2 linked regions of the Homo sapiens genome follow. The protein of the gene in region 1 purifies or fractionates together with the protein of each later gene. This does not show direct contact. Each region holds a gene or a part of one and is shown in the gene's direction. Other genes may lie near its edges.

What was found. The genes of interacting proteins can lie anywhere in the genome.
Region 2: the proteins of CLCA2 (region 1) and NDC1 purify together in Homo sapiens (affinity purification with mass spectrometry; one large-scale study listed by BioGRID and IntAct). This does not show direct contact.

What each region holds. Positions count from the first base shown.
Region 1 is NC_000001.11:86,443,692-86,448,960, forward strand, and holds part of CLCA2 (calcium-activated chloride channel regulator 2 preproprotein), read left to right. Parts: intron 1-95; coding exon 96-320; intron 321-1,692; coding exon of another isoform or gene 1,693-1,830; exon of another isoform or gene 1,831-1,835; intron 1,836-3,816; coding exon 3,817-4,087; intron 4,088-5,269. UniProt on the Homo sapiens protein: Plays a role in modulating chloride current across the plasma membrane in a calcium-dependent manner, and cell adhesion. Involved in basal cell adhesion and/or stratification of squamous epithelia. May act as a tumor suppressor in breast and colorectal cancer.
Region 2 is NC_000001.11:53,830,855-53,835,302, reverse strand, and holds part of NDC1 (nucleoporin NDC1), read left to right. Parts: intron 1-2,711; coding exon 2,712-2,813; intron 2,814-4,448. UniProt on the Homo sapiens protein: Component of the nuclear pore complex (NPC), which plays a key role in de novo assembly and insertion of NPC in the nuclear envelope.

The sequences.
Region 1 (5,269 bases):
TATTTTTGCCAATTAATTGTTGTTTGTTAAAAAAGAAAAAGATGGAATGATTATGCATACACCAGAAACTCTCATATATATCTTCTCTTTAACAGCTTGAAAGTACAGGTGAAAATGTCAAACCTCACCATCAATTGAAAAACACAGTGACTGTGGATAATACTGTGGGCAACGACACTATGTTTCTAGTTACGTGGCAGGCCAGTGGTCCTCCTGAGATTATATTATTTGATCCTGATGGACGAAAATACTACACAAATAATTTTATCACCAATCTAACTTTTCGGACAGCTAGTCTTTGGATTCCAGGAACAGCTAAGGTAGGTGTTGTGAGTTTGTTCCTAAGGACAACGTTCAACCAAGTTTATGATTTTCAGCTGAATCACATGATTAAATGCATTGTGTAAAGAAAATCTTGTTTTAATATATCAAAAGTTTACTTTAAATTTATGAGGCCATTTTGTGAATATTAAAAATTTAAGAGGAATAACTAAGGTATATTCCCAGTTTTATATATTAGACACCAAATACTTCAACACTGAAAATTAGTATTTCCACTAGTATTACAATTAATGTTTTTCTAGCCTACATATTTCTTTACATAATCCATACAAACACACTTTTCTATATGCTTAGAAAAAAATCTCTACTTAGAATTTATAATATGAATACATGCAATGCATGTGGTTTTTAGCATCTACTGGGTGTGCTGGGTTTTGTTCCAGGTACTTTACAATAAAATGCCATGGTAAGAGCATGAACAGGGTACTATCAGAACATACAAGAGGGTGGAAGGAAGAATGCTTCCTGGAAGCAAAGACATCAAAATGGAAATATAAGGAATAACAGGCCAGAGGTGGGTATGATATTGTGGGCAGAGGAAACAGCATATAGAAAGACTCAGATAAAAAGAACATGGCTGTTCATAGAACTAGAGTAGTTCAATAGAGTAGGGTAATCTATAAGTTAGGGATGTAGGCAAAGGAAGGAGAGGGGAGTAGTGAGGCTAGACAGGTAAACAGGAGCTGTATTAGCAAGGGCTTTGCACAACAGTAAAGTGAACAGGGGCTTGAATCCTGAAAGTGAAAGGGAACCACTGATGGTTCTAAGGAGAACTGTAAGTTGATCAGATTCACTCTTGCACTGCCTGAATTCAGTGCCTCCTCACATGCTGCCCCACCCCCACTTTTGTTGTTGTTGTTGTTGTTGTTGTTGTTGTTGTTGAGATGGAGTCTCGCTCTGTCACCCAGGCGGGAGTGCAGTGGCACCATCTCAGCTCACTGCAACCTTCACCTCCCAGGTTCAAGCGATTCTCCTGCCTCAGCCTCCCGAGTAGCTGGGACTACAGGCACTTGCCACCATGCCTGGCTAATTTTTGTATTTTTTGGTAGAGATGAGGTTTCACCATGTTGGCCAGGCTGTTCTCAAACTCCTGACCTCAAGTGATCTGCCTGCCTCTGCCTCCTGAAGTGCTGGGATTGCAGGCATGAGCCACCGCTCCCACCACCTTCTTGACAGCCCCTTAACTAGCCTTCTTGACTCTGAACTGCCATCCCTCCAGTCCATTCTTTACCTCTATAAAAGCGATCCTTCTGAAGCACAAATCAGTCTGTCTTTTGTTCAAAACCTCCTTGGTGGTTTCAGAATAAAATCCAAGTGTTAACCTTTTTTTTTTTTTTTTTTTTTTTTTAGCTTAGAAGATTCGCATTTATTCCAGATGGGAGGCTGAATCTCTCAGTTGTAGATTTTGACACATTGGCACTATTTTTGTTTCTGATTTATTGCCTTGGCCATAAGGTCAAAGGCAACAATAAAGTGTACTTTCATTAATATCACCATGGACTTTCGAGTATTAATATGACAAGAAAAGACAACTATTCATTTTTTTTAAGGGGATTGGACACACAAACTTCAGGAGGGAAGAATCCCCTCTCCCATGGTAGAATCCTCTATCTTGATAAAATGGTTGCTTTATTGGTCAGATTTTGGACTTGGATCGTCTTTGTTATAATATTAATAGTACAGAGCATGTAAGATTTTCTGCATTCATTTGAAATTCCTAATACCAACCATCTTTTAATTTATAAAAAAATGAGGGAAACTTATAATAAAACAAAAAATACTACCCTCACAGACGATTAATAGCATGCAATCTATGAAATATTACACACATTAAAAGTCTCCAATTACTGTGTGCCTGGCTCATCACACAGTATCCTTCCAAGACGATCTATAGAATTCAAAACTGTACAAAAATTTTAAAATATGCAGAAAACCCAAAAGGTATTTTGTAAAACAAAGATCACACACACATTAGTACTAAATAGGGAAAAAAAATCAGCAGACCCATGGACTCCCCCTGCTCCCAACTGCAGGTCTTCAGTATAGAGGATTTCACCAGTGTCTTCTGCACTCCCCCAATCCAGTAGGGGTCCAACAGACCAGCTGCATTCCTCCTGACTGCCACCAACTCTGTTTTCTGCATAGTTGTCTTCTCTGCTTCTGTAGTGGTGAGCTGTGGGAACTTTTTTTTTTTTTTTTTTTTTTTGATGGAGTCTCGCTCTGTCACCAGGCCCAAGTGGTAAATCTTACATACCAGACCCTTCATGTTTTGGCTTCTACCCAAGCTTCTCTCTTAACTTCTTCGATGCTCTGCTCCTATTGAACTTTTCTCCAAATTCATCATGTTCTTTTCACACCTGTGTATAAGGGCCAGGGACACTTTACCTACTTCTTGCTCCCCTTGCCTGACCTCTTGGTCTGGATTAGATGCCCTGTATCAAAACATTTATTACACTCAGAGAACTTTTTGATGTGGAAGTTCCTGCCATGCATCTGTCACTAATGTTATGATTCAAAAAACAAAAACAAAAAAACATAGTCCTTGAATCATAACTTAATGGAAAATAGTGAAGCTCATGAATCCCAATGAAGAAAGATGGCTAGGGTGTGGTGCATCTGAACTCTCCACCCTGAGTTACGCTTCAACCCCTTGCTTTTCTGTTCTTCCTTCTGCTTTGTTGTGTTTCACTTGTTACTTCTGGGGGTTTGATAAGGAGCAGCAGCAGAAGTCAGGGAAAAGCAATATATGTATAGCTTAATCAAAAGGACGAATTTCTGCTATATTGTAATTTTAGTCTTTTTCTTTCAGATTTTCTTTTGTAGGTTTTTCCCAGGCAGATAGGCAAGAGTAGTGTTTAGCAGTATTTCTATAAATTACCCAAATTAGATATTGTATAATCCTGACCTATTAAAAATAGTAGGTCCTTTTCTTGGTCCCTAGTAGTGTATGTGTTTTTTGTTGATTGAGATTTCTGAGTGTGGAGTTTTTGGGAAGTGGAGTGAAAGAAGGATGTTGTTGCCTTTTTAGTCCACGGTGTCCACATAAATTATAATGGTCCAATTAATTTGATGTAATTTTCTCAGTTATGAAAAGAAATGAAAAACATTTAAACGCCTTTTTGGGGAAGGGGCTCAGATTAATATCTGTAAAGTACTTTGAAGCTGGACACTATTATTGTTATGTTCTAAAAATGGGAATCAAGATGTATCCTCCCTCACTCCAAATAAATTCGAGGTGTAATTCCCTAAAGAATTATCTAGAAATAAAGGTGACTTATGCTATGAAAGCCATGTAAATACAAATTTATTCATCCCTTAACCAATGCTACTTTTCCTGGCATCTTTTTGTAGTATTTTAAAAAGTGCAACATCAACAAAACAAGAGCAAAATTCTCCAGAAGTTTTGATGTATGCTTTAAAATTAGGGTTGATTTTTTTTTCACACTTTCCAAAACAATAAGACTTGTTTTACAGCCTGGGCACTGGACTTACACCCTGAACAATACCCATCATTCTCTGCAAGCCCTGAAAGTGACAGTGACCTCTCGCGCCTCCAACTCAGCTGTGCCCCCAGCCACTGTGGAAGCCTTTGTGGAAAGAGACAGCCTCCATTTTCCTCATCCTGTGATGATTTATGCCAATGTGAAACAGGGATTTTATCCCATTCTTAATGCCACTGTCACTGCCACAGTTGAGCCAGAGACTGGAGATCCTGTTACGCTGAGACTCCTTGATGATGGAGCAGGTAACAAGGAATGTCATGACATTTTATCATCTTCTCAACAGCTGTTGTGATATGATGCGGTAGTATCAATATTAAGCTTATCTGTAAGATTCCTTGAGTTCAATTTTTTTTTAATCTTACAATATTCTCAAATTCTTATAGAGTCACTGATATACTGAATAGCTACAGGTTAACATGGAAAAAGAGAGTCCTTGTGAGACTCCTCATAGTGTCTATGTTTGAGCAAAGGGTGGGAGGCAGCCGCTGGACACCTTGGTCCTGGCTTCCACTTGCTGAGGTCATACAGGAGCAGGCTTCTATGTCCTTATGACATACTTATATTCCTCTAAGAGTCACTAGCTTTATTATTCACTGAAGTAATCAGATTGGACTGTTAAAATAGCAAATGAAAATCAGAAGGGAGGTGCAGTGACAGCGAACCCACTTTTTCCCTTTGGACCCCAGTTATGAAGAAAAAATTGGAAACTGAACTTGTGACCTATAAGATGACCCTAGACCCAAGAGGCTGGGTTGAAGAGAGGGCACAGCTCAGTTCTAGCACAGCCAATGCCTTTTACGTGTGTAATTTGGTCCCAAGAAGACCCAGCCTGCAAGCCTAGTGGAATCAGAATAGAGAAAAGTTCTCATTCTGCACATACAGCATTCAGAGCCTCGTCATCATACATTATAGATGGTATAGCATCCAGCCAGGTAAACAGCAGCACTTGGGATCCTTTGAAAAACAAATTCCTTTGTTGTTCCATCTTTCCTATTTGGTTATTTTCCTAAATTACATTCTTAGAATGGCAGTAGACCTGCCTCTTGGCAGCCCGAAGTGTTTGATCTGCTAACAAAATTATATTCTTTTGCCCTGTTGTTTCAAAGTTAATCTTTTTTCAAGAGTCTTAAGTTTGGTAGCCCATCAGTATCTTGCCATGGCAATCATGTATGATGTGCAGGAAAACAAAAGTTCATTCAAAGGGTTTTGGTTCAAGTCCACCACTGGGGGATACCAGAGAAGTCTTCTTGTTTTGCCTGTTGGATTGGATCCAAATGAACTTCTCATGCTCTGATGGCTTATCCATGGTTGCACCTTTCATTTTTTGTTTATGGTCCAAAAATGTACTTTTGCAGAATGTTTCTCTCTTGCCCCACCCTGTGGGCCAGCCTGGAGAACAGAGCCTACTCCCCTAGGGAATATCG
Region 2 (4,448 bases), about 33 Mb from region 1:
TGTCAAAGACTGTGATCATAGGAACGAAAAGATCATTAGAAGACCCCATAAATGAAAACTTAGTTTCATTTGTTTTTCCTTTGGGCAGCTTTATTGAGATTGTTTGTCTCTTTAAAATACAGAATGGTTCCTGTCATCGATTCGAAATTGTGGGTAGAAAATATGACATGTACCTCTTTTAAAAATACGTCTAAAATTAAGAGCACTTGATTTCTTTTTTTGAAACAGAGTCTTGCTCTGTCACCCAGGCTGAGTGCAGTGGCTCAGTCTTGGCTCACTGCAACCTCTGCTTCCCATCTTCAAGCAATTCTTGTGCCTCAGCACGCGCCACCACGCCCGGCTGATTTTTGTATTTTTAGTAGATACGGGGTTTTGCCACGTTACCCAGGCTGGTCTTGAGCTCCTGACTTCAAGCAATCCACCTGCCTCAGCCTCCCGAAGTGCTGGGATTACAGGTGTGAGCCACCGCACCTGGCCTAAAATGTTCCTTAAATTCCTTAGAGACTAAGTAAAATTACTAAATGTATTAAAATTAACTTGTTTTCTGTTAATAACTACCCATTATTGCCTGTTTACCGTGTGCCAGCTCCTTACATATATTACTTCTTATCCTTCCTGTAACTCTGTGTAGTTAAGAGGTACTTTCTACTTTATAAATGGGATAACTGAGATTCAGGTTAAATAATCCATGCAGAGACACCCAGCTAGTGAGTAACTGATTTAGGATTGAAAATTGGTCTTTCTTTTGCCTTGTAAAGTGGGAAGTTGAGTTTTTAATTTCGTTTTTCACAAGAAAATGCCAGTTTTCAAGGAGTTGGACTCTTTACCCATGACCTTTGGAGATATTGGTGTTAAGTTTCTTGTTGACGTACGTCCATCACTTTTTCGATAGGTCCCACTGGTCAGGTGAAATTAAGCCATAAGCCAGCACAGGCATAGCAAATATTTCTATAGCCACCTTACCTGTGTCTGCTTCACTCACTGATCATGGCTCTCTGGTGGCAACCTTAGAGTACTCAATCTTGTATTTGAGAGCCATTACCAATTGTTCACAATTGGCACTGGGGACAAAAACTTTTTGCCATTTCATGGCCAGAGGTTTTTTAATCCTCATCACACTTTCTCTGCAGGTTGGATTTGATTTATGCCATTTTCCTCATCAGAAGCTTGGGTTTAATTGTAGATGCTTAGTAAATATTCCTCATTAATTTAGGTCAATGGGCCGAGTGTGGTGGCTCACCCCTGTAATCCCAGCACTTTGGGAGGCTGAGGCGGGCGGATTGCCTGAGCTCAGGAGTTTATGACCAGCCTGGGTGTGGTGGCATGCACCTGTAGTCCCAGCTACTCGGGAGGCTGAGGCAGGAGAATTGCTTAAAGGGGGAGTGGGGGGTGGAGGCTGCAGTGAGCTGAGATCACGCCACTTCACTCCAGCCTGGGTGACAGAGTGAGACTCCATCTCAAAAAAAAAAAAAATTTAGGTCAATGAATTGTACTTTTAAAAATAAGTGGTTAATTTTTAAGTCTTAGCAAACATGCTCTTATTTTTATTTCATTCATATTTTTAGGCATTATATATATATATTTTAAACTTTGAGATGGAATATCGATTGTTGAACTACTCTAAAATGTGAATGTATTAGTATTTCATGGGGGCATCCTGATTTTTTTGTTTTTGAGTTCCGCTCGTTTAGATGATGTAATGTATGGCTTATTCTATTTCCAAAAATGTTACTTTAGCTATATGAGGTAATTGCATTTATGAAGAAGAGATCTGAAAAGTATTCTTTATATTTTAAGAAAAAACTTTGTTGGTATATTACTAAAGATGATACTTCTCTTTCACATGATTAAATATTTGCATATGCGTGGCTGGGTGTGATGGCTCATACCTGTAATCCCAGCATTTTGGGAGGCCGAGGTGGGTGAATTACTTGAGGTCAGGAGTTTGAGACCAGCCTTGACAACATAGTGAGAACCCAAAAAATAGCCATGGCGGGCATCTGTAATCCCAGCTACTGGAAGGCTGAGGCAGGAGAATTGCTTGAACCCAGGAGGCGGATTGCAGTGAGCCAAGATTGAGCCACTACACTCCAGCCTGGGCAACAGAGCAATACTCTGTCTTGAAAGAAAGAAAGACAGAGAAAAGAAAGAAAGAAAGTTTTGCCATGTTCTAGTGTTTTGTCTGATGTTAACTGGGTCATTTAAGAAATTGTAGTATAATTTTAAAGTACCTGGGGCCAGGTACGAATAACTCACACTGTAACTCCTTTTTTCTCCCCCCCTTTGTTTTTGAAACAAGGTCTTTCTCTGTTGCCTAGGCTGGAGTGCAGTGGCATGATCACTGCTCACTGCAGCCTCAAACTCCCAGGCTCAAGTGATCTTCCCACTTCAGCCTCCTGAGTAGCTGGAGACTGCAGGTGTGCACCACCACACCTGGCTATCTTTGTATTTTTGTAGAGATAGGGTTTTGTCATGTGCCCAGGATGGTCTTGAGCTCCCTGGCTTAGTGATCCCCCCATGCCCAGCCCACACTGTAGTTCTTGAGTTGATATCTCATTGAACCTGTCAGTGGTGTACAATTAAATTCTTGAAGAAAAGATAACCTTTAAAATTAATGACAATTGTGGTTCAAGCTCTTTTTATATTGCAGTGTCCTGAACGTGACTACATGACTGAATAACCTTTACTAATTCATCTCTCTTGTGTTTTAGATTCTTTCAGTGACCTGTATAGTTCCTATGTAATCTTTTACTTCCTGCTGCTGTCAGTGGTAATAATAATAATAAGTATTTTCAATGTGGAGTTCTATGCAGGTGAGTTTTCAAATGTTAACCTTCTTAGAAATATGCGAATTTATTTAACTAAGGGAAGACTTAGTACATTTTATATGTGAATGTGTTTTGTGTCAAAAATTTAAAAACGTATACAGAATCATATGCTTCAAATGTTGTACCTTAAAATTTATTTGGGTGCTAGTTTCTGTTTTAAAAATATTTTTAGACTTTTTAGGACAAATATTATATGATTCTACTTATACGAGGTATCTGGAGTACTCAAATTCATAGAGAAAGAAAGTAGAATGCTGGTTACCAGGCGCTGGGGGAGGGGGAGTGGAGAATTGCTGTTTAATGGGTAGAGTTGTGGAAGATGGAAAAGTTTGGGAGCTGGATGGTGGTAGTGGTTATACAACAATATGAGTGTACTTATGCCGCAGAACTGTGTACTTAAAAATGGTTCGAATAGTGAATTTTATTATTTTACCACAATAAAAAAATTTAGACCTTTTAATAGTTCATAACTAGTATTAAAGCTGTGATTTAGCAGATACATTATGAAAAGAATTCCTTTATAGGGAAGACCAGGTGATTTCTAAGTTTTTTTTTCAAATATAATAATCTATAATACTGTGATTAAAAAAAAACTTATGTTTTGCCTTGGAGAATCACCTGCTGGATTCCAGAGCTTTTAATTTTTCTGTTTCTCTTCATATTCTTTCTGCCTTTTCAGATTCCTTGAGACTGCCTTTAAGATACAAGTTGTGGCAGATTCACATAAGGAAAAAAAGATACAATAAGAAGCTTTTCCTGACTCTTATTTTTTTACTATAACATCATTTTCCTTTTTTTTTTTTGAGACAGAGTCTCGCTCTGTCGCCAGGCTAGAGTGCAGTGGTGCGATCTCAGCTTACTGCAATCTCTGCCTCCTGGGTTCAAGTGATTCTCCTGCCTCAGCCTCCGGAGTAGCTGGGATTACAGGCACGCGCCACCACGCCCGGCTAATTTTTGTATTTTTAGAAGAGAGGGGGTTTCACCATGTTGGCCAGGATGGTCTTGATCTCTTGACCTTGTGATCTGCCCTCGGCCTCCCAAGTGCTGGGATTACAGGCGTGAGCCACTGCACCCAGCCCATTTTCCTTTTTTTAAACTTAAAAAAAATTTTTTAAATGTACATGTTCCATATGTGCTAACATGTCTAAACCTTAAATTAGTTTATCATAATGTCATGTTTTAGATTTTACATTTCATTGATTATATGAATATTCTGTTTATTTATTTATTTTATTATTATTATCATTTTTGAGACGGAGTCTTGCTCTGTCGCCCAGGCTGGAGTGCAGTGGCGCGATTTCGGCTCACTGCAAGCTCTGCCTCCTAGGTTCACGCCGTTCTCCCGCCTCAGCCTCCCAAGTAGCTGGGACTACAGGCACCCGCCACCATGCCTGGCTAATTTTGTTTTTGTATTTTTAGTAGAGACGGGGTTTCACCATGTTAGCCAGGATGGTCTCAATCTCCTCACCTCGTGATCGGCCTGCCTTGGCCTTCCAAAGTGCTGGAATTACAGGCATGAGCCACCATGCTTGGCCTATTTATTATTTTTTTTGAGAGAAACAGATGCGGTAGGATCATAGAATACTCAGACCGGGAGGAATTTTTTTTTTTTGAGACGGA